3 separate regions of the Homo sapiens genome follow, and all the other regions are linked to region 2. Evidence: fine-mapped expression QTL. A gene starts in region 2. Each other region holds a variant in brackets. All regions are shown on one strand. Distances are from middle to middle. Region 1 overlaps TJP3 (tight junction protein 3). Region 2 holds the start of TJP3 (tight junction protein 3). Region 3 overlaps TJP3 (tight junction protein 3).

The links. PIP is the estimated chance that this variant, and not a neighbour inherited with it, causes the effect. A credible set is the group of variants that fine-mapping cannot tell apart.
Region 1: its variant is the best candidate, but not a certain one, in a credible set for the expression of TJP3 in blood mononuclear cells (TOPMed, PIP 0.58).
Region 3: its variant is the best candidate, but not a certain one, in a credible set for the expression of TJP3 in caudate (GTEx, PIP 0.53).

Annotation. Positions count from the first base shown.
Region 1 is chr19:3,736,643-3,744,816 of GRCh38, reverse strand. TJP3 (tight junction protein 3) reads right to left here. Exons shown (of 21, transcript NM_001267560.2): 12 at 6,154-6,262; 13 at 5,683-5,920; 14 at 4,054-4,265; 15 at 783-878. Among named protein-coding and RNA genes, the nearest start is that of APBA3, 21 kb to the left of the region's middle. RefSeq lists a silencer at 7,790-7,990. The variant C/G (reference allele first, on the strand shown) is at 4,405.
Region 2 is chr19:3,704,963-3,713,136 of GRCh38, reverse strand. TJP3 (tight junction protein 3) reads right to left here and starts at 4,753. Exons shown (of 21, transcript NM_001267560.2): 1 at 4,576-4,753. RefSeq lists enhancers at 1-86, 87-588, 2,602-3,147, 3,983-4,644, 4,645-5,308.
Region 3 is chr19:3,746,472-3,754,616 of GRCh38, reverse strand. It overlaps TJP3 (tight junction protein 3), which reads right to left. Exons shown (of 21, transcript NM_001267560.2): 17 at 7,922-8,132; 18 at 7,741-7,841; 19 at 6,536-6,823; 20 at 4,433-4,479; 21 at 3,804-4,035. The coding sequence ends at 3,933. It overlaps APBA3 (amyloid beta precursor protein binding family A member 3), which reads left to right. Exons shown (of 11, transcript NM_004886.4): 4 at 277-422; 5 at 512-598; 6 at 691-852; 7 at 1,627-1,797; 8 at 1,897-2,109; 9 at 3,064-3,183; 10 at 3,288-3,428; 11 at 3,520-3,845. The coding sequence ends at 3,591. Among named protein-coding and RNA genes, the nearest start is that of APBA3, 11 kb to the left of the region's middle. The variant T/C (reference allele first, on the strand shown) is at 5,071.

The sequences.
Region 1 (8,174 bases), 32 kb before region 2:
AGCTGGGATTACAGGCATGCGCCACCATGTCCAGCTAATTTTTTGTGTTTTTAGTAGAGATGTGGTTTCACCATGTTGGCCAGGCTGGTCTCGAACTCCTGACCACTGCGCCCGGCCTCCTAGTCTATCTTAATTGTTTTTGTTTTTTTTTTTTTTGACAGAGTCTCATTCCGTCGTCAGGCTGGAGTGCAGTGGCATGACCTCGGCTCACTGCAACCTCTGCCTCACGGGTTCAAGCAATTCTCCTGCCTCAGCCTCCCGAGTAGCTGGGACTACAGGTACGCGCCACCACACCTAGCTAATTTTTGTATTTTTAGTAGAGACGGGGTTTCACCATGTTAGCCAGGATGGTCTCAATCTCTTGACCTCGTGATCCACCCGCCTCGGACTCCCAAAGTGCTGGGATTACAGGCATGAGCCACCGCACCCGGCCATTGTTTCTACAGTTGTTAATTTGGAGTCTTCTCCAAGGGACCTTGCCTGTCGTGTTCACTGCTGTCTCAGAAGATCAATAAATTTCTCTTAAACAAATAACAGGTGGCACTTTGCCTCAATTGGCAATGGCTACCTGGTGAACTGTGTTAAGAAGGATTTGGAGGTTCTATCCAGACAAACGGTGCCAAGATGGATTGAGGATGTCTGGCTTGGGTATTGGGGGGGGCACTGGTGGCCCATCTGCTTCATGTTTGCCATCATTATTCTAACTCTCCCCCGACCCCCCACAAAAAAACAGTTGTGAAACTATTTCACCAACGAGGTTTCCAGAGGATCTGGCTTCTCACCTGCGATTTCAAACTGGTCAGGCATCTCAGCAGTCAACTTCTGCATAGCAATGTCGGCCACGGGTCCCAGGATCACTACCGGGCGCTTGAAACTGGCTGAGGGGTAGAGACACAGTGAAAGAATCAGGGTCCCATTTGCGATCAAAGACTGCTAGTGTGTTGTACAAACCCCTCCACTTCCTTATAGTAAACAGCCTATTTAACCAGGACCATAGCTACCCAGCCAAATACTACATCTCCCAGTGTCCTTTGCAGCTAGGTTAGCCTTATGACCAAATAATGGCCAATGGAACACTAGCAGAATTGATGTGTACATTTCTGGGTTCCGCCTTCAAGGGCAGGAATAAGCCCCTCTCCTGCCTTCATTCCCTTTCTTCCTGGCTGTAGGGTCTCTTTTTAGCAGTTGAACCTAGCTAACTCATAGGTCAGCAGACTACAACCTGAGGGCCACATCTGGCCCACTGCATGTGTTCGTCAATAAAGTTTTATCAAAACACAGTCACAACCATTTCTTTATGTCCTGTCTATGGCTACCTTTGAGCAGAGCTGAGTAGTTCTGCCAGAGACTAGCCCACAAAGCCTAAAATAGTTACTATGTGATCCTTTGCAGGAAAAGTATGTTGACACCTGGCCTACCAGATACACCATTTTACCACTGAAGAAACAGTCACAGAAGCGTCTTGAGGGGAGAAAAGTGGTAGCCCAGGGTCTTTGCAACTTAATCCTTCTCTTTCTCCCTTTCTTTCTTTTATTTTATTTACTTTTTTTTTTGAGATGGAGTCTAGCTCTGTGGCCCAGGCTGGAGTGCAGTGGCGCAATCTTGGCTCACTGCAACCTTCACCTTCCAGGTTCATGCAGTTCTCCTGCCTTAGCCTCCTGAGTAGCTGGGATTACAGGCGTGCGCCACCATGCCTGGCTAATTTTTGTATTTTTAGTAGAAACTGGGTTTCACCATGTTGGTCAAGCTGATCTCGAACTCCTGACCTCGTGATCCGCCCGCCTCGGCCTCCCAAAGTGCTGGGATTACAGGCGTGAGCCACCGCACGTGGCCTATTTACTTATTTTTTTGAGACAGAGTCTTGCTGTGTCACCGAGGCTGGCGGTGCAGTGGCTTAATCTTGGCTCACTGCAACCTCCATCTCCCAGGTCCAAGTGATTCTCCTGCCTCAGCTTCCTGAGTAGCTGGGATTAGAGGCGCCCACCACCACGCCCGGCTAATTTTTGTATTTTCAGTAGAGACGGGGTTTCACCACGTTGGCCAGGCTGGTCTCGAACTCCCGAACTCAGGTGATCCACCCACCTCCCAAAGTGCTGGGATTACACCTCGGCCTCCCAAAGTGCTGGGATTACAGGCGTGAGCCACCACGCCTGGCCGTGGCCTTGTATTTCTAGGACGTTTTCATCTGGATGTTGGAGCAGCGCGATGACAGTGTCAAAGGCTTTTCTCAAGGTCCATCCACCCACCCCTGTCCCGGGCAATTTGCTCTTCCCACCCCTTTTGTGGTTTTATTTGGAAAATCGCTGCACCTGGGTTTTTAACCCCCTGTCCTCTGATAAGAGCTTAATCTCTTCCCTTCCTGAAATCAGGATGAGGCATTTTTCCCCCCAGAGTCTGGCTTTGTTGCCCAGGCTAGAGTGCAGCAGCATGATCATAGCTCTCCGCAGCCTCGACCTCCTGGGCTCAAGGGATCCTCCCACCTCAGCCTGCCAAGTAGCTGGGACTACTGGCGTACCACCACACCTGGCTAATTTATTTTTTATTTTGTAGAGACAGAGTCTCACTTTGCTGTCCAGGCTGGTCCCAGACTCCTGGGCTCAAGTGACCCACCCATCTTGGCCTCCCAAAGTGCTGGGATTACAAGCGTGAGCCACCACGCCCGGTCAAAGAAGATAAATTATTAAAATTATTATTATTGCTATTTCTTTTTCCTTTTGTAAGGCTATCTACATGCCTTGCACCATATTTCTGTTGGAGACACAAATAGATTTTTAAGGAATGAACCCCCTTCCTGTCCTTCTGTCCCCTAAAATAACCCAAAATTTTTTTGTTTTTTTGTTTTTTTTGAGACGGAGTTTTGCTCTTGTTGCCCAGGCTGGAGTGCAGTGGTGTGATCTCCGCTCACTGCAACCTCTGCCTCCCGGGTTCAAGTGATTCTCCTGCCTCAGCCTCCCAAGTAGCTGGGATTATAGGCACCTGCCACCATGCCCAGCTAATTTTTTGTACTTTTAGTAGAGATGGGATTTCACCATGTGGGCCAGGCTGGTCTAGAGCTCCTGACCTCAGGTGATCCACCTGCCTCAGCCTCCCAAACCATTGAGATTACGGGCGTGAGCCACCGCACCCAGGCCCAAAAGTATTTTTGATAGAAGGAGAGTGGTTAGAAACATGCTTTTTTTTTTTTTTCTTTTGAAGACAGTGTCAATCTGTGGCCCAGGGTGGAGTGCAGTGGTGCGATCATAGCTCACTGCAACCTCTGCCTCCCGGGTTCAAGTGATTCTCCTGCCTCAGCCTCCCAAGTAGCTGGGATTACAGGCGCCTGCCACCATGCCCAGCTAATTTTTTGTACTTTTAGTAGAGATGGGATTTCACCATGTGGGCCAGGCTGGTGCGATCATAGCTCACTGCAACCTCGACCTCCCAAGCTCAAGCAATCTTCCTGCCTCAGCTTCCCAAGCAGCGGGGACTATAGGTATGCACCACCATGCCCAGCTATCTTTTTAAATTTGATGTAGAGGCCGGGCGTGGTGGCTCACGCCTGTAATCTCAGCATTTTGGGAGGCTGAAGCGGGTGGATCGTGAGGTCACGAGTTCAAGACCAGCCTGGCCAACATGGTGAAACCCCGTCTTTACTAAAAATACAAAAATTAGCTGGGGGCGGGGTGATGGGCGCCTGTAATCCCGGTTACTTGGGAGGCTGAGGCAAGAGAATCGCTTGAATCAGGGAGGCAGGGGTTGCAGTGAGCTCAGATCACGCTATTGCACTCCAGCCTAAGACAGAGCAAGACTCTGTCTAAAAATAAAAATAAAAACAAAAATAAATAAATAAATAAATTTGAGGTAGAGATGTAGTCTTGCTTTACCGCCCAGGTTGATCTGGAACTCCTGGCCTCAGCGATCCTCCTACCTCGGCCTCCCAAAGTGTTGGGATTATAGGCGTGAGCCACCACGCCGGGCCAAGACTGTGCCTTTTAGAGGCTGAATGTTAGTGAACAGGTGCACCAGGAGCTGTGTGTGAGGCCTCCCCAGGGCCCCTCCAGCTCCGGGCCCCACCTTCTCGCAACACCACTCGTTCGTAGGGCGGGTAGCGGCCCTGTCGGGTCAGAGCTGAGAGGTCCTCACGGCTCCGCTGAGTGGTCTTCTTGGCTCCTCGACGAAGACCCCGCAGCCGCCAGAACTCGGCCCGAGCATTGGAGCCCGCGGAGGAGCCGGGCCCGACTCCCACGGCCCTCTGGGCAGCTTCCAGGCTGGCCAGCTGCTCCGCCCTGGGGAGAAGAGGGGACAGTACTGAGCACTGGGGTCAGCAGCATGGTGGCCCCAAAGACGTCCTCGTCCTACCCCTCGGAGCCTGTGGACAGGCCACTTTGTATGGCAAAAGGGACTCTGCAGATGGGATTATTATTA[C/G]TATTATTATTATTTTGGGTTTTTTGAGACAAAGTCTTGCTCTGTCACTCAGGCTGGACTCGTTACAACCTCTGCCTCCTGGGTTCAGGCGATTCTCCTGCCTCACTTTCCCAAATAGCTGGGATTACAGGTGCCCGCCACCACGCCCAGCTAATCTTTATTATTTATTTATTTACTTTTTTGAGATAGAGTCTCGCTCCGTCGCCAGGTTGGAGTGCAGCGGTGCAATCTCTGCTCACTGCAACCTCCGCCTCCCAGGTTCAAGCGATTCTCATGCCTCAGCCTCCCAAGTAGCTGGGATTACAGGTATGCACCACCACGCCCAGCTAATTTTTGTATTTTTAGTAGGGATGGGGTTTCACCATGTTGGCCAGGATAGTCTCAATCTCTTGACCTCGTGATCTGCCCGCCTCAGCCTCCCAAAGTGCTGGGATTACAGGCGTGAGCCACCGTGCCTGGCCTGCAGATGGGATTAAACTGATGCTATTGAGGTGGATGATGATCCTGGGTGACCCAGGGGACCCGATGTCCTCACAGGGTCCTCACAAGAAGAGGCGGGAGGGTGAGAGTCAGAGAGAGACTAGAAGAGGCTGTGCTGTGGCTATGAAGGGGGAGGAAGGGGCCCCGAGCTGAGGGATGCGGCCCCTCTAGACTCTGGGAAAGGTGGAAAATTGGTTTTCTCCTGGAGCCTCTGGGAGGGCCCAGGCCTGCCCATACCTTGACTTTAGTACTTTTGCTCTCCAGAACTGTAAGAGGATGTGTGTGTTGTTTAAAGCCACTAAGTTTCTGGGCATCTGTTACAGCAACAACAGGAAGCTCATACCAGCACCAAATGGGGCCCGCCCAGAGCCTTTTGTGGACCTCCTCAGATTGAACCACCAACACTGCTAAGCAGTGATATCATGCCTATTTATTTATTTATTGAGACAAGAGTCTCACTCTGTTGCCAGGCTGGAGTGCAGTGGCGTGATCTCGGCTCACTGTAACCTCTGCCTCCCAGGTTCAAGCGATTCTCCTGCCTCAGCCTCCCAAGAAGCTGGGATTATAGGCATGTGCCACCACGCCCAGCTAATTTTTGTATTTTTAGTAGAGACGAGGTTTCACCATGTTGCCCAGGATGGTCTCGATCTCTTGACCTCATGATCTGCCCACTTCAGCCTCCCAAAGTGCCAGGATTACAGGCCTGAGCCACCGCGTCCAGCCCAATCGAGCCCATTTCTAACGGGGAGACTGAGGCTGAAGCAGAAGTGCCCCACTGCAGGAGCACACAGTCCCCACCTGCTCTGGTTGGGAATGATGCCCCGCTCTTGCTCCCGCAGGTCACGACCCATGCGCACCGCCAGCCAGTGGCCTCCTCGTGCGTGGCTCTGCCCGGGGCCGGGGTGCAGCGTGTCCAGCACGTGGAAGACGTCGCCACGGGTGAAGCCCAGGCCAGACGGTGGACTGGGCTCCAGCTCAAAGTGAGTGCGGATGTAGAAGGAGTCACCCACGCGGGACTGCACCATTTTCCAGAAAACTGGGGAGAGCGGGAGGCCACATGAGCTGCCTGGGCTGCTGCCTGATCTGAGCCCTCCCCACCCGAGAGTGGGCCTGGCTGGAGATTTGGGGCACTCTCCCTGTAGGGGCCAGGGAGAGGGATGGAGGGTGCAGAGATGCAGATTCAACCACATCCCTGCACTCACCACCAGGCCACACAGCCAGGTCCTCCCCCCGCAACACACAGGCACACCCATATCCACGCGCACTCACTGTCCTGCTTCCTCTGCGTCACCAGCTCCATCTCCTCGCCTGGTGGCAGCCCCAGCAGGAACTGCACTGCCTCCTCCCGTGTCAGGTTCTGGAATGGCACGTCATTCACCTGCCAGAAAGCAAGTGCAGCTATAGAAAAAGCTCTGGTACCTCTTGGGCGTGCATGAGATCCTGGACCTTCCTCTGGGCAAAACTCAGCCCCAGCTGCTTCCAGAGCTGCTGCCAAGGGACCCGGCAGTTCCCCGAGGGCTTTCCGACTGGGGTATCACCCTATGGCTGTGTGATGTGTGACACAGACAGCTGGTGGCATTGTAAGGATACAAGAGTTTTGACACAGAAACGGGCACAGGCACTGCACTTGTCCTCAGATAACCAAATCATGGTGGGTTGTCAATATCAAAACATGGGAACAGAGGTCATGGCATGGAGCTCGATGGAAACTGTGTGAAATGCTCAAAAGAACTCAGACGTAGTCACAGTAGTCACAGGGTCGTGACAGGGACAACGATATATGGACACACAGTGGGTCACAGATGCCTACCACCAGGGTCATGACAGGGACAACAATATATGGACACAGCCATCTGCTCTCCGGGTCATGACATGGACAGCAATATACAGACACAGCCACCTGCTCTCAGGGTCATGACATGGACAGCAATATACAGCCACCTGCTCTCCGGGTCATGACATGGACAGCAATATACAGCCACCTGCTCTCAGGGTCACGACATGGACAGCAATATACAGACACAGCCACCTGCTCTCAGGGTCATAACAGGGACAGCAATATACTTGCACAGCTTGTGGGCACAGACACCTACTCTCGGGGTCATGACGTGGATGTCAAGGTTAGAATCCCACAAGCAAAATGAGTAGAAATACAGTAAAAAATACCATGACCCTCAGGCAATTTGGCATCAAGTTTTCACCCAGCCAGTGGGCTTATGACATGGAAAGTGGGGAGCTGTGACTCCATCATGAATCACAACTCACACTGCAAGGTCAAGACACAAGCAAGGTCATGAGAGCAAAGTGGGGGTGAGACTTGGTGAGTGAACTCGCGCAAGGGACAGGGGAGACAGCCTGGGGATGAGATGAGGCAAGGACAGAGATGGGGGGATGATGAGGGGCTGTGGATCCTGGAGGTAGTTATGACACTGTCATGAAGGCAGGACACAGGCAAGGTCACAACACAGACACAGGGGATGGTGGCACAGAAAATGACTATAAGTGGACATGGAGATCATGAGAGAATGATCTGTGACCTGACCACACGATTAGGACATACAAGACGGTCATGACACGGTCAACACAGCCAATGTCAGGAACAAGAGGATTGCGACCCAGACAAGGTCATGACATAGGCAATGAGGCTGTGACCCAAAGTCCTGACATTGATAACAAGGAGATTGTGACATTGATAACAAGAATGTCACATGAACAATGTCATATGACATGAACAACAAGATTGTTGTTCCCAATCTTGAGCACAGTGTCTCAAGCTTATAATCTCAGCACTTTGGGAGGCTGAGGCGGGTGCATCACTTGAGGCCAGGAGTTCAAGACCAGCCTGGCCAACATGGTGAAACCCTGTCTCTACTAAAAACACAAAAATTAGCTGGGCATGGTGGCGGCCACCTGTGATCCCAGCTACTTGGGAGGCTGAGTCAGGATGATCCCTTGAACCCGGGAGGCGGAGGTTGCAGTGAGCCAAGATCACACCCCCGCACTCCAGCCTGGGTGACAGAGCAAGACTCTATCTCAAAAAAAAAAAAAAAAAAAGTTAGCCAGGCGCAGTGGCTCATGCCTGTAATCTCAGCTACTTGGGAAGCCGAGGCAGGTGGATCACCTGAGGTCAGGAGTTTGAGACCAGCCTGGCCAACATGGCGAAACCCTCATCTCTACTAAAAATATAAAAATTAGCCGGGCGTGGTGGTGGACAACTGTAATCCCAGCTACTCAGGAGGTGAGGCAGAAGAATTGCTTGAACCTGGGAGGCAGAGGTTGCGGTGAGCCAA
Region 2 (8,174 bases):
TGAAGAACGTCTCAGGGTTTGGCGTCCTGGGGAGGCTGGAGGACCTCATGGGGGGCACTTTGAAGTAGGACTCATGGGGGGCACTTTGAAGTAGGAGGAGTGTGGAACCTGCTAGAAGCTTGGAGTATGGAATGCAGCTCAGGGTGTTCAACAGGGGACTTTCTTTTCTTTTCTTTTTTTTTTTTTTGAGACAGAGTCTTGCTCTGTCACCTAGGCTGGAGTGCAGTGGTGCAATCATAGCTCACTGCAGCCTCCACTTTCCTGGGCTCAAGCGATCCTCCCACCCCAGCCTCCTGTGTAGCTGGGGCCACAGGTGCACGCCACCCTGCCCAGCAGATTTTTGTATATTTTGTAGAGACGGTATCTCGCTATGTTGCCCGGACCTGTCTTGAACTGCTGGGCTCATGCGATCCTCCCACCTCGGCCTCCCAAAATGTTGGGATTCCAGGCGGGAGCCACCAAGCCATGCCAAAGATGCCATTTCCCCCAAAAGGGAGGACGGCTGAGCTCTAGAAGGAAGTTCCACAGCAGAGAGAGAAAAGCAGAGCCCATGTGAATTCCAGCCCCTGCCTCAGCTTCCTCATCTGTAAAACGGGGATCCCGGTTTTGACCCTGAGCAGTATTTCAGGGAAGGCTCAAAGGTTTAAGCATCTGCCACTAAGGATCCCCTGGGCTGCCTCTCCATGCTTCTAACTCCACTCGGGCCCCCAGTGGGAAAGCCAAAGGTGAATTACAGTGTCCCAGGGCTAGAGGGGGCCCCCTGCCCCATGGAAACCATCTACGCTAAGGTGCTGTCATTCTGGGCACGGAATGACATTTTTGAGATGGAGTCTTGCTCTGTCTCTGGGGCTGGAGTGCAGTGGTGCGATCCCGGCTCACTGCAACCTCTGCCTCCCAGGTTCAAGCAATTCTCCTGCCTCAGCCTCCCAAGTAGCTGGAATTATAGGCACACGCCAACACACCTGGCTAATTTTTGTATTTTTAGTAGAGACAGAGTTTCACCACGTTTGCCAGGCTGGTCTCAAACTCCTGGGCTCAAGTGACCCACCTGCCTTGGCCTCCCAAAATGCTGGGATTACAGGCGTGAGCCACCGTGTCTGGTCCAGAGGAGAACTGAAAGAACACACACACACAGGCAATCAAGAATGCTGAGGCCGGGTCGGTGGCTCTCGCTTGAAATCCCAGCACTTTGAGTGGCTGAGGCTGGCAGATCACTTGAGCCCAGAAGCTCGAGACCAGGCCGGCCAACACAGCAAAACCCCATTTCTATTTTCAATTTTTAAAAAAAAGAAAGAAAGGAAACAAATTAATTCCCCTCTGTATAGGCTATAAAGTCTTACCGGTTCCCATATTAATTAATGAATTAAGCAGACACATAAAGCACCTTTTTTTTTTTTTTTGTACTTTTAGTAGAGACAGGGTTTCACCATGTTAGCCAGGCTGGTCTTGAACTCCTGACCTCGTGATCCACCCGTCTCGGCCTCCCAAAGTGCTGGGATTACAGGCGTGAGCCACCGCATCCGGCCTCATTTTGTATTTGTATGAGAGTAATGATTTTACTATTTTGGGAAAAAATATCCTTTAATATCATAAAGCCAAATGTCTTCAGGCCAGCATTTAAAGCTCTCCCTTCATTTTGGCCGGACGCGGTGGCTCACGCCTGTAATCCCAGCACTTTGGGAGGCCGAGGCGAGCGAATCACCTGAGATCAGGAGTTCGAGACCAGCCTGACCAATACGGTGAAACCCTGTCTCTACTAAAAATACAAAAATTAGCTGGGCGTGGTGGTGGGCGCCTGTAATCCCAGCTACTTGGGAGGCTGAGACAGGAGAATCGCTTTGAACCCAGGAGGTGGAGGTTGCAGCGAGCGGAGATCGTTCCACTGCACTCCAGCCTGGGCAACAGAGCGAGACTCCATCTCAAAAAAAAATAAAATAAGGCCGGGCATGGTGGCTCACGCCTGTAATCCCAGCACTTTGGGAGGCTGAGGTGGGCGGATCACAAGGTCAGGAGAGACCATCTTGGCTACCACGGTGAAACCCCGTCTGTACTAAAAATACAAAAAATTAGCCGGGTGTGGTGGCGGGCGCCTGTAGTCCCAGCTACTCGGGAGGCTGAGGCAGGAGTATGGCGTGAACCCGGGAGGCGGAGCTTGCAGTGAGCCGAGATCGCGCCACCGCACTCCAGCCTGGGCGACAGAGCGAGACTCCGTTTCAAAAAAATATAAAAAGTAAAATAAAGTTACAAAGCGCCTCTCACGCATGTTACCCTCTGTGCAGCCATTGGCTCCATTACTGCGCTCTTGTTTCATGTCTGTCTTTCCCCACCAAAATATGCGCCCCACGAGAGCAGGAAGCTTGGCCTGCCTTGCTCACTGCTGAATCTCCAAGGCCTGGTGACCCCACACTCGCGCATACAGTAAGTGCACAATAAATGCCCGTTCGCTCCCTGGGCGACCCCTCCCCCCAGCCTAGGCTTCCGCTAACCTCAATCCATTCCAAAGGGTGTCAGGTTCCACCCTGAGCAAACACAGCTCCCCTGGCCCCTGGCCAGCCCTAAAGAGGAAGAACAAGTACCCATACTCCCTGCCCTGGACTTTCCCCGGGACTCAGGGCCACGAGGAAGCACCAAGCCAGGGGGCAGGACTTTCTCGAGATGCTGAGCCTGAGGCATCAGCTGGGGGCAGGGCCAGCCTCCAGAGCACCACCCCCGCCACCAGCTCCCTGTCCTCTGCGTCTTGACTCTTGGCCGCCTGACATTTCTACTTGGCTGTGCGGCCCGGGGTAAGCGGCTGTCCTTCTCTGAGCCAGGGTTCATCCTCTACAAACCAGGAAGCTGATGAGACCAGACTCCGATTCGGACCGGGATAGCTCGTCTTGACCCCAGAATGACCGAGAATCTGTTACCCGCTTTATTACATCCGGCACTCAACAGCCCTGTGCCTTGGTGACTCCATATCCCCCCACCCCTTTTTTTTTTTTTTTTTTTGAGACAGAGTCTCACTCTGTTGTCCAGGCTGGAGTGCAGTGGCACAATCTCGGCTCACTGCAACCTCCACCTCCTGGGTTCAAGCAATTCTCCTGCCTCAGCCTCCGGAGTAGCTGGGATTACAAGTGCTTGCCACCATATTCGGCTCATTTTTTGTATTTTTAGTAGAGACAGGGTTCCACCATGTTGGCCAGGCTGGTCTCGAACTCCTGACCTTGTGATCCACTCGCCTCGACCTCCCAAAGTGCTGGGATTACAGGCGTGAGCCACCGCGCCCGGCCCTCAATATCCCCATTTTACAGAGCAGGAAACAGAGGCCCGGAGAGAAGGGAGGTGTGGAAGCCAGATCTAACTGAGTCCACGGGTTTGCTCTCAAAACCCAGGCAAGGTGGGATCCATGTCGCCCACCCCCACGGACTCCCGAATCTCAAGCAAGCCTGCTCCCTGGGAGCTCTGCAGCCACACAGCCACAAGGTGACCCCAAATGCCGGGCCGCTCTGTCCCCCACTATGCGATCATCCATGCCTCCTCGGCCCCGGGGGACCCTCTTGGTTCTGGAGAGAGACTTGAGATGCAATCGGACACTTGGCTCACGAGGAAGCTCCCTTGGTCTTCCCATTTGGGAGCAAATGACCCAGAAAAACACTTTTGCTGCCGACCCCTCCCCTCTCTGGCTCTGAGCGCTCCTTCCTCCTTCCCCTCTGCCCCATCCCACAGAGATTTTGCTCGGAGGAGTAAAGATTAGAAAAAGAAGTCTGGGCGCAGTGGCTTGCGCCTGTAATCCCAGCACTTTGGGAGGCCGAGGGGGTTGGATCACCTGAGGTCAGGAGTTCGAGACCAGCCTGGCCAACATGGTGAAACCCCATCTCTACTAAAAATACAAAAATTAGCTGGGCATAGTGGTGGGCGCTTGTAATCCCAGCTACTCGGGAGGCAGAGGTGGAGGCAGAGGTTGCAGTGAGCCAAGATCGCACCACTGCACTCCAGCCTGGGCAACAAGAGCAAAACTCCGTCTCAAAAAAAAAATTAGCAAAAGAAAGGCCACCCCAATCCCTCCCTGCAAAGCTCCTGGAGGTTCCAGCGGTGAGAACAGGGTGAGGGGTTGGGGGGCGGGAGACGCAGTTGTTTCAAAACTTGGGAGCCTTTTAAGAAGTTCCAGGAGGCTCAGAGATGAGTGAGGTCGCAGCCTTTCCCACCTGTCACCTCCTAGCCTCGGGCTGCAGGAGGTAAACCCAGGCTCCGTCTGGACTGATATCCCCTCCCCTCCTCAGTTAGGGGGATCAGAGACCAACCTGTGCCCCTTTGCCGCCTCCCCGGTCCCTGCGCCACCTAGGTAACAATGACCCTTTTAAGTTTCCAGCTCAGCGTCCTGGGCAGGCCGCCAGGTGCAGTAACTGCCGGTCAGATAATCCCTACGAAACTATGTCAGATGCCCACGCAGGAGTGTCAGTTTCCTGCTTTCCGAGGAGCCGGGGAGACAGCTCGTGGTGGGGGAGGTTGGGGGGGAGTCTAAGGACCCTCAGCTGGGGAAGGCCAGCTCAGACAATGCACACTGGGTGGAAAAGCACAGTGGGGCGGGGGACTTACCTGTCTAGGAGGCTGGGTGGCCTCTGGGCAGGCAGCAGGTGCCAGGGCCCGGGTGCCTGCCTGGCACGGGTGGTGGGGAGGGAACCCGAGGCTTGTAGCTCTGGCCTCCCCACCTGTTTGACCAACTTTTCCTCTCTTGTGGTGGCAACAGGGAGGCAGGTCCCCTGCCAGTGGAACTGACGACCACAGACACAGGGAGACGGACCAGGGTGAGGGGCGGGCCAGCAGGAGGACTGGGTGTGTGGCTCTGTCGCAAGGTGCCCTCACGTGGGAGCAACTGGCCTTAACCCCTGCTTGCCCAGAGGTGAGCTTGCTCCTGCCTGTGCCCTCACCGCCGAGGCCCTGGTATCAAGCGTCCGCACATGGTAGGTGCTTAGGAAACCCTCGTTGGCTACATTCAGACATGAATGGACCGCACTCCCGGAGTCCCCCTCCCTCCTGCTTCTTGCATCTGGAGCTGCCCAGTCTCTGTGCTTGCTGAGCCTCCTGCCAGGCACGCCGGCCCATCAGGCTGTGGCTTGGCGCACTCCCTTCCCCACGCAGATCTGTGCGCAGTCTGCCTCTCTGCTACGAAGTGACTGGGTTCCTACGTACAGAAGCTTCTGCCACTTCCCCGCTGTGTGGCTTTGGGCAAATTACAGGGGCTTCTTGCTGTCCTCATCTAAAAAACAAGAAAGGGTCAGGTGTGGTGGCTCACACCTGTAATTCCAGCACTTTGGGAGGCCGAGGTGGGAGGATCACTTGAGCCTGGGAATTTGAGACCAGCCTGGGTAACACGGTGAAACCCATCTCTAGAAAAATTTTTATATATCTTTTGTTTGTTGTTTGTTTTGAGATGGAGTCTCCCTCTGTCACCCAGGCTGGAGTGCAGTGGCGCGATCTCGGCTCACTGCAACCTCCGCCTCCTGGGTTCAAGTGATTCTTCTGCCTCAGCCTCCCAAGTAGCTGGGATTACAGGCGTGCACCACCACGCCCAGCTAATTTTTTTTTTTTTTTTCAGTAGAGACGGGGTTTTCCTATGTTGGCCAGGCTGGTCTCAAACTCCTGACCTCAAGTGATCTGCCCGCCTCGGCCTCCCAAAGTGTTGGGATTACAGGCGTGAGCCACCGAGCCTGGCCTAGAAAAGTTTTTTTGTTGTTGCTGCTGGCTGTTGTTGGTTTTGTTTTGTTTTTTGTTTTTATTTTATTTTTTTTTTATTTTTTTGAGACAGAGTCTTGCTATGTTGCCCAGGCTGGAGTGCAATGGCTTGATCTCGGCCCACTGCAACCTTTGCCTCCCGGTTTCAAGTGATTCTCCTGCCTCAGCCTCCCGAGTAGCTGGGATTGCATTACAGGCACCAGCCATCATGCCCAGCTAATTTTTGTATTTTTGTAGAGACGGAGTTTCACCATATTGGCCAAGCTGGTCTTGAACTCCTGGCCTCAGGTGATCCGCCTGCCTTGGCCTCTCAAAGTGCTGAGATTACAGGCGTGAGCCACCACGCCCAGCCCAGAAAACTTTTTTAAAAATTAGCCAGATGTGGTGGTACACACCTGTAGTCCCAGAAACTCAGGAGGCTGAGGTGGGAGGATCAATTGACCCTGGGAGGTTGAGGCTGCAGAGAGCTATGACTGTGCCACTGCACTCCAACCTGGGTGACAGAGCAAGATCCTATCTCAATAAAATAAAATTAACCAGGAAGGGTTGGGCATGATGGCTCACACCTATAATCTCAGTACTTTGGAGGCCAAGGTGGCAGGATCACTTGAGGCCAGGAATTCGAGACCAGTCTGGGCAACATAGTGAGACACCCCCCCATCTTTACCAGTACATTAAAATTAAAATTTAAAAAATTAAGTCTGGGCTCAATGGCTCACCCCTGTAATCCCAGCACTTTGGGAGGTTGAGGTGGGAGAATTGCTTGAGTTAGGAGTTCGAGACCAGCCTGGCCAACATGGTGAAACCCCATCTCTACTAAAAATACAAAAATTAGCCGGGCAAGGTGGCATGCGTCTGTAATCCCAGCTACTCAGGAGGCTGAGACGGGAGAATCGCTTGAGCCCCAGAGGCAGAGGTTGCAGTGAGCCGAGATCGCGCCACTGCACTCCAGCTTGGGAGACAGAGCAAGACGCTGGCTGAAAAATAAATAAATAAATATTAAAATGCCACCTCACAGAGGTCATGGACTTTGTCGTGCTCATCCCTGCCGTGTCCTATGGCCTAGCACAGTGCCTGGTACACAGTAGGTGCTCAATACATGTTTTTGGAATGAATGGACTAGGGTCCCTCCAGCCTGCAGTACCTCCTGCTGACGGTAGTAGCCACTATGGCCACCAGGCGGCGCCAGAAACCACGCAACCGGCCCCCGCCGGGCAGCCTCGGTTTTCCACCCTGCGTAATGGGGACAGCCAACCAGGGGCGTGGGGGGATGCGGGGAAGGCACAGAAGGCTGGTGGCTCTCCCGGACCCCAGCCCCTCCTCTCTGTCCCTTGCCTCTCCCCTCCTGTCACCCCATCCCTGCCCTAGTTTTCTTTTTTTTAAGTTTTTTGTTTGTTTGTTTGTTTTTGTGTTTTGAGACGGAGTCTCACTCTGTCTCCCGGGCTGGAGTGCAGTGGCGCCATCTCGGCTCACTGCAACCTCTGCCTCCCGGGTTCAAGCGATTCTCCTGCCTCAGCCTCCCGAGTAGCTGGAATTACAGGCATGTGCCACTACGCCTGGCTACTTTTTTGGTATTTTCAGTAGAGGTGGGGTTTCATCATGTTGGCCAGGCTGGTCTCAAACTCCTGACCTCAGGTGATCCACCCACCTCTGCCTCCCAAAGTGCTGGGATTACAGGCGTGACCCACCGCGCCCGGCCAAGAGGCTGCTTTTAACTGCTTGTTTTGATGTTGACTTTTGCGTCTGTAAGTCATGACTGTTCAGCCAGTTTTAGTAATTTTTTTTAAGTATATTTCCTCTTCATTATCCTCATCAATGATCTAACCTCCAGCACTTCCTCCACTTTATCTGGCATCCAAATTGCCTGGAAGGGGGAAGTCATGAACACCCAGATTTTACCACCCCCACCACCCCGCCCAGTTTCTGGTGTGTGAAGTCTGCGTTGGAGCCTGGGAAACTGCATTTCTTTTCCTTTTCTTTGGTTTGAGACAGAGTCTCGCTCTGTCGCCCAGGCTGGAGTGCAGTGGTGCAATCTCGGCTCACTGCAACCTCTGCCTCCTGAGTTCAGGTGATTCTCCTGCCTCAGCCTCCCAAGTAGCTGGGACTACAGGCGCATGCCACCACGCCTGGCTAATTTTTATACTTTTAGTAGAGATGGGGTTTCTCCATGTTGGCCAGGCTGGTCTCGAACTCCTGACCTCAAGTGATCCGCCCACCTTGGCCTCTCAAAGTGCTGGGATTACAGGTATGAGCCACCGTGGCTGGCCCCTTCCCCCAAACTTTATCTGGCACCCAGTTTGCCTGGAAGGGAGGAGTCATGAACACCCAGATTGTGCCCTCCCACCACCCTACTCTGCCCAGTTTCTGGTGTGTGAAGTCTGGGTGGGGGCCTAGGAACCTGCATTTCTTTTACTTTTCATTGTTTGTTTTGAGACCAGGTCTCGCTCTGTTGCCCAGGCTGG
Region 3 (8,145 bases), 41 kb before region 2:
ATCTGTGGGTGCTAGATCTGGCTTTGAATCCAGCCATGGCCTGGACTCACTGGTTTCCCACCTGCGAGTCCTTGAGGGATGGACAGAAGGTTCTAGACCTGTGAGGGCCAGGCTGCTTGGATGGTTCTAGAACAGTGGGCTGTGCTTCCTGGCTGGAGAGTGCTAAGCCACCAGCTAGAACACTGTGTCTCCCGGCCATCTCGGAGAGCGTAGCCCTGGGGCAGAGCCTGTGGGAGTGGGCCCCTGGGGGCCGACCCTCTTCGCTGTCGCCCTCAGTGCCTGGTCCCTGTGACCATGAAGACCTCCTGGACGGTGTCATATTTGGGGCCAGGTACCTGGGGTCCACCCAGCTGGTGTCGGAACGGAACCCGCCCACCAGCACGCGCATGGCCCAGGCCCGGGAGGCCATGGACCGCGTCAAGGTGAGGGGGCGGCCGGGGCCGGGCGGGCAGGCGGGTGGGCTGCAGGCTGGGTCTGTGGGGGCCTCCACCTCCCACGCCGCCACCCACAGGCCCCCGATGGGGAGACCCAGCCCATGACGGAGGTGGACCTGTTCGTCTCCACCAAGAGGATCAAGGTCTTGACAGCGGACTCCCAGGTACGGGGCAGGGACCCGCCCCAGGGATGCGGGTGGGGTGATCGAGCCTGGCACGGCCCCCCAACCCACCCAGGCTGCCTCTCCCGCCCCAGGAGGCCATGATGGACCACGCCCTGCATACCATCTCCTACACAGCCGACATCGGCTGCGTGCTGGTGCTGATGGCGCGGCGGCGGCTGGCACGGAGGCCGGCACCCCAGGACCACGGCCGCCGCCTCTACAAGATGCTCTGCCACGTATTCTACGCGGAGGACGTGAGCAGCCAGGGCGCGGGGCCACCCTCCTGAGGCCCTCCTCACTGCAACTGTCGCCTCCCTCAGTGGGCCGTGCATTTAACCTCCCTCCCATAAGCTTATTTTTAAATTCTTTTTTTGGGACAAGGTCTCCTTCTGTCACCCAGGCTGGAGTGCAGTGGCGCAATCATAGTTCACTGCAGCCTCAACCTTCCAGGCTCAAGCGATCCTCCCACTTCAGCCTCTCTAGTAGCTGGGACCACCGGGGTATCACCATGCCTGGCTAATTTTTGTATTTTTTATAGAGACACGGTCTCGCTCTGTTGCCCAGGTGAACACGGTCTCAAACTCCTGGGCTCAAGCGATCCACCCACCTCAGCCTCCCAAAGTGCTGCAATTACAGGCGTGAGCCACCGCGTCCAGCCTCCTATAAGACTCCAAGACTCTCGGCCGACTCCCCGAAACCTTGCCCGCTCCTGGGCTGTCCCTGCCACCCATGAGGCCCCAGGCCCCCTGGCTGGGTCTTTGATAGCTTTTCCCACAGCCCATGCGCAGGGAGCTGCCTCCCTCATCGTCCCCCCAGCCCAGGGCTGCCCCTCCCCTTCCTTCTCCCCGTAGATTCCCCAAGATGCGGCTGTCTCTCCACCTCCCCCAAAGCCCCAGGGCAGAAGGCTGTGTCCTGGGACTCTCACCCCAGGTGGGGACAGGAGGGCTCAGCTCTGAGGACCCTGGGGACTTTGGGGACCTGGAGGAGGTGGGTGGGACACCCCAGGGACGCGCCACTCCTCCCCGCAGGCCCAGCTCATCGCCCAGGCCATTGGCCAGGCCTTCGCCGCCGCCTACAGCCAGTTCCTACGGGAAAGCGGTATTGACCCCAGCCAGGTGGGCGTGCACCCGAGCCCAGGCGCCTGCCACCTCCATAATGGGGACCTGGACCACTTCTCCAACAGTGACAACTGCCGGGAGGTGAGTGAGGTGCTGGGCAGCCCCCACCTGGTGCCCCCCACACCCGTGCACCTGCACCGGGCCCTGCTGAGCAGCCTCCGCGCCCCCTGTGTGTCCCAGGTGCACCTCGAGAAGCGGCGAGGGGAGGGCCTGGGCGTGGCCCTGGTGGAGTCGGGCTGGGGCTCCCTGCTGCCCACAGCCGTCATCGCCAACCTGCTGCACGGGGGGCCTGCTGAGCGCTCGGGGGCCCTCAGCATCGGGGACCGCCTGACCGCCATCAACGGGACCAGCCTGGTGGGGCTGCCCCTGGCTGCGTGCCAGGCCGCTGTCCGCGTGAGTTTCCTGGTGTGGCAGGGCCCCCACACTCCCAGGAAGGGGAGCTGAGTCCCAGAGAGGTCTCCTCCCTGGCCAGGTCTCTCCAGCCCAGCCAGGAGGGACAAAGTCGAACTTTTAAGTCCTGCCCACTGGTGTGCCCTTGGGGAAACTGAGGCCTGGAGAAGGGAGGCCACTTGTCCAGGGCACCTCCCTAGTACCAGAGCCAGGATGGAAATGCGGGTGGCCCAGCTCCAGGGCTGGGCCACTCTCTCTCTCTAACAAGAAACAGCTAATTTCTGGGGGGGTTTGTTTGTTTGAGACAAGGTCTCACTCTTGCCCAGGCTGGAGTGCAGCGGTGCACCTGGCTCATTGCAGCCTTGACCTTCTGGGCTCAAGCAAATCTCCTTCCTCAGCCTCCCGAGTAGCTGGGACCACAGGTGTGCACCACCACGCCCAGTTTATTGTTTTATTTTTTGTAGAGATGGAGTCTCACTATGTTGGTTGGCCAGGCTGGTCTTGAGCTCCTGGCCTCAAGTGATCCACCTGCCTCGGCCTCCCACAGTGCTGGGATTACAGGTGTGAGCCACTGCACCTGGCCATGTTTTTGAGTCTCAACCTTTGTTGCTCAGATGGGGAAACTGAGGCCCAGAGATAGGGAGGGACCTGCCCCCGTCAGAGGAATGAGGCCACAGTCCGTGCAGCCTCTTACAGATGTTTGCAGCCTGCCTGGAGAGCCCGGCTGTCGGCTTGGCTTTTGGCCATAAGGAAGCGATATGGCTCGGGTCAGACAGCTTCGACCCCATGCCCACCGGGCCCGAGTCTGTTCTCTATCACATCTGAGGGGGTCTTCCAGAATTGAGCCCCTGGACTCCAGGTCTCTGGTTTATGAGAGGGTAAACTGAGGCCCAGAGGGGGCTACAACCTGCCAGGCTGTCCGGCAGCTGAGTGAGGCCAACGGCCCCCGCCCCACAGGAGACGAAGTCGCAGACGTCGGTGACACTCAGCATCGTCCACTGCCCTCCCGTCACCACCGCCATCATCCACCGGCCCCACGCCCGCGAGCAGCTGGGCTTCTGCGTGGAGGACGGCATCGTGAGGCCCCGGCCCCTGGCCCCGGGGTGGGGGGGTAGGGCGGCCCTGAGCACGGCCCCTGAGCAGCCCCCACCTCTTTCCCGTCCCCCTCTTTTCTCCCCCAGATCTGCAGCCTCCTCCGTGGTGGCATCGCCGAGCGTGGGGGCATCCGCGTCGGCCACCGCATCATTGAGATCAATGGGCAGAGTGTGGTGGCCACGCCACACGCCCGCATCATCGAGCTGCTCACCGAGGCCTATGGCGAGGTGTGCGGGTGGTGGGTGGTGGCCAGGGGCGCCCCCACGTCCCCCACGAGCCCAGGCCTGCCCTGAGCCCCGTTCCGCCTCCACTCCCCAGGTGCATATCAAGACGATGCCAGCTGCCACATATCGCCTCCTTACAGGCCAGGAGCAGCCCGTGTACCTGTGACCACCTCATCCCTTGCCTGCCACTGTGCCTTCGCCTCCATGGCCCCGGAGCCCCATCCTGGGCCTGCCCTGGCTGGCCAGGACCCCAGCGGTTCTTGGTCCTGTATGATTTCCTAATATAAAAACAGTAAAAGCTTATGCATTTGGCAAAGTCTCGGATCAGGGTCTACGGGACCGAGGACCTTGTCCTTCCTGGAAGCCACTAGAAGCCGGTGCTGTGAAAATACTCTGTTTATTAAAGACCAGGCGGAGGGAGGTAAGGTTGTGGGTTCTGTATGGGAAACTGAGTCCCAGCCCCAGGGAGGGAGAAGGAGGACGGACCAGCTGGCAGCCTTCGAGAGGTCACAGGTCAGTGGCCGGACCCCAGTCATAGCCGTCTTCATCGGAGGACTCCGCATCATGTACTCGCATAAACTTTTTCTTCAGGGCTTCCCGTTCATAGGTTCTGGGGATCAGGAAATAGAATAGATGCTGTGGGTGGGAAGGGTGTGAGCTTTCTCACCATAAACTGAGGCTGGCTGTGCTAGGCACAGTGGGTGTGGGCAGAGATAAGCACATCTGGGCATTCATGGGTAGGGCCTTGTTAACAAACTCCTATGCATCCCTCAAAGCCCCAGCTGCAATATCCTGCCCTTCAAGAAGCCTTCCTAGGCCTCCCAGGAAGTGGATTCCTACTCCCTTGGCCCTGATTATATGGGGCTTAGAGAGGCTCTGGCAGGCTCTGTCTTCCCCACTAGGCTAGGGGCACCATGAAGGCATAGCTTGGATCTAGATCTGAGTCCGCAGAGTCTGAGTCCCAAGGGAAGGGTTGAGGGCCCCAATCTGGAATATGGGGTTCTTACCGCATGCTGTCCTGTCGCCACTGTCCCTGGGGGTGGCGGCTGTCCACCTTGGAGGAGAGGGAGAGAGGAGCTTCAAAACTCCCCCCAGAGCATGGTGAGTCGAGATCAATAACCACCTCCATCCCATCCCCCACCTTGGCCCGGGCCATGCTGCCCACTTGCTAACCCCGTGACAAGTCTGCAGGTCATCCCCAAATCTAAATGAGAAAACTGAGGCTGGGATAGGGGAAGGCCTTAGCTGAGACCTCCTAGCCTGTCAGCAAAAGGGGAATTGGGTTTCTCATCTGTGCAAGTCCTCACAGGGCCACAGCCATGAGTTCATGTACGTAAAGGACTTAGTACAGTGGCTGCTCCGTATGCAGCCTGCCATGGACAGTTGAGCAGGTTGGGTACTGCACAACCCCAGGAAAATCACTCTAATCAGAGATGTCATTGATTCATAGATTTTTACATTGACCTAGAGAGGGTGTGGAAGAAGATGCTGAGGCATATACACTAAGAGCTACATACACATTTGTTACTGTTAAACACCCAACTACAGCTGGGCGCTGTGGTTCACGCCTGTACTCCCAGCACTTTGAGATGCCAAGGCAGGAGGATCACTTGAGCCCAGGAGTTAGAGACCAGCCTGGGCAACA[T/C]AGCAAGACCACATCTCTGCAAAAAATGAAAAAAAATTAGCTGGGTGTGGGTGGTGGTGCGCGCCTGTGGTCCCAGCTACTCCGGAGGCTGAGATGAGAGGCTCCCTTTAGCTCAGGAGTTGGAGGCCGCAACGAACTATGATTGTACTACTGCACTCCAGCCTGGGCAGCAGGGCAAGACCCTATCTCTAAAATTTAAAAAATAAAATATATAAATTAGATAGGTCAAGTTCAAAAAGACACGCAACTACTATGTGCCAAAACTTGGGCTGAGCACATTGAGTGCTCACCACCGCCCTGTGCCACCAAGTCTGATACCATCCACCCTGTGTCCTAGATGAGGAAACAGGTGCACAGAGAGGTTAAAATGTTGGCTGGAGGCCAGGTGCGGTGGCTCACGCCTCTAATCCCAACACTCTGAGAGGCCGACGTGGATCACCTGAGGTCAGGAATCGGAGACCAGCCTGGCCAGCGTGGTGAAACCCTGTCTCTACTAAGAATACCTTAAAAAAAAAAAAAAATTAGCTGGGCATGGTGGTGCTCACCTGTAATCCCAGCTACCTGGGAGTCTGAGGGAGGAGAAACGCTTGAACACAGGAGGCCGAGGTTGCAGTGAGCCCAGATCGTGCCACTGCACTCCAGCCTGGGTGACAGAGCGAGACTCTAACTCAAAAAAAAAAAAAAAAAAAAAAAAAAAAGGCCGGGTGCAGTGGCTCACACCTGTAATCCCAGCACTTTGGGAGGCCGAGGCTGGAGTTCCAGACCAGCCTGACCAACATGGAGAAACCCTGTCTGTACTAAAAATACAAAATCAGCCAGGCATGGTGGTGCACGCCTGTAATCCTAGCTACTCAGGAGGCTGAGACAGGAGAATCGTTTGAACCTGGGAGGCGGAGGTTGTGGTGAGCCGAGATCACGCCATCGCACTCCAGCCTGGGCAACAAAAGCGAAACTCCATCTCAAAAAAAAAAAAAAAAAAGCCTGGGTGCAGTGGCTCATGCCTGTAATCCCAGCACTTTGGGAGGCCAAGGCGGGTGGATTACAAGGTCAGGAGTTCAAGACCAGCCTGACCAATGGTGAAACCCCGTCTCTACTAAAAATACAAAAATTAGCCGGGCATGGTGGCAGGTGCCTGTAATCCCAACTACTCAGGAGGCTGAGGCAGGAGAATCGCTTGAACCTGGGAGGTGGAGGTTGCAGTGAGCCAAGATTGCGCCATTGCACTCCAGCCTAGGCGACAGAGCAAGACTGCGTCTCAAAAAAAAAAAAAAAAAAAAAATGCTGCAAGTTACTCAGTGCCACGTGGGTCTCAGCTACCCCAGGTCTGAGTCCCAGAAACCAGTCTGACCAGGGAAGCCGTGTTTGTTGACGTCCTGGTAGAAAACAGGCTCCCAGTGTGTGTCTGCTCTGTGCTGGCATCCCCTCCGGAGACCCTTCCCAGGCCTGCCCCCCATGTCCGACGCACCTGGGCCCCCTGATGAGCCGAGATTCTCCCACGATCCCTCGGGCTCTGGGACTCATCTGCCTGCACGGGCTCCGAGGACCGGGCCAGGGCTGGAGCCGGGGGCTCATCATCCACATCCGTGTAGGGCCCCCCCTCGCCGTCTGTGTAGCCCTCGCCATCCGTGTACGCGCCGCCCTCGCCGTCCGTCTCGTAGTCGCTGTTAACGCGGCTGTCGCAGCTGAGGTCAGCGGAGCTGTCGGCCAGGCCGTGGTGAGGGAGGTCTAGGTTGTCCTCCAAGGAGCCATCCAGCTGTGGGGTGGGTGTGGATGCTGCGGCTGGCCCTGGCCAGGACCCCAGCTGCCACCCACGACATCCCCCCACCTTCAAACTCTGGTCCCAAATCAAGGCGAGGAGCCTGGAGCCTGGAGCCTCAGTGGAGGCTTCTCTGTTGACTCCAGGATGGGTTGTATCCATTGACCCTTCACCTGAGAGGCTCAGCCCCCAAATCCAAGCTGAGCCCCAAACCTTGACTCCAGCCCCAAGAGAAGACTCCATTCTCTCTCTCTTTTTTATGAGAAGGAGTCTCTGTTGCCAGGCTGGAGTGCTGTGGCGCAATCTCTGCTCACTGCAACCTCTGCCTCCCGGGTTCAAGTGATTCTCCTGCCTCAGCCTCCTGAGTAGCTGGGACCATGGGCGTGAGCTCCCGTGCCCCACTGACTCCATTCTCAAAACAGCTCCTCCAGGCTGGGCGCGGTGGCTCAGGCCTGTAATCCCAGCACTTTGGGAAGCTGAGGCAGGTGGATCGCCTGAGGTCAGGAGTTTGAGCCCAGCCTGGCCAACATGGTGAAACCTCGTCTCTGCTAAAAATACAAAAATTAGCTGGGCCTGGTAGCGCTCGCCTGTAGTCCCAGCTACTCGGGAGGCTGAGGCAGGAGAATCACTTGAACCCGGGAGGCGGAGGTTGCAGCAAGCTGAGATCACACCACTGTACTCCAGCCTGGGTGACATGAGACTCCATCTCAAATCAAACAACAAAAAACAGCTCCTCCAATCTCATCTCACCCAAGTTCCAGTCCAACACCCTTGTCTCAGGTCCCATCTTGACTCTGGCCACAGTCCTGATCCCTGACCAAGCCCTAACTCCCGACAGAGGCCCCAAACCCCAGCTGGGCCTGCACAGCGTCTGTGGGGCCTCCCTGCCCGACCCACCCACACCGCGGCAGTACCTGATCTTCCGCCGTCCAGATGGGCCGCGTCTGCTGCTCTCGAATGATGGCCTTGAGCTCCTGGTACCAGGTGTCACTCGTGCCATTCAGAGGGATGGTGGCTGCAGGGAGGGGACGTCAGTGTGTGCAGGAGACTCAGGCTGGGGCCCACCCGCCTACCCTGGGACACCCACCCCCCAACCTGTGAAGAGGTGGCTGCTGTGTTTTCGCAGCTTCTGGGCTTGTGCGTAGAGGCGACGGGTGCTGCGGCGGGAGGCAGGCGCCAGCCACTGGCGCAGTGCCTTGAGGGCCGGCCGGCTCTCGGGGATGAAGAAGACCACAATGGGGTAGTACTGCACATAGTTGAGGCGCTCGATGGCGGAGGGGGTCACATCCAGGAGCGCATGCTTGTCCTGGGCCAGGCCG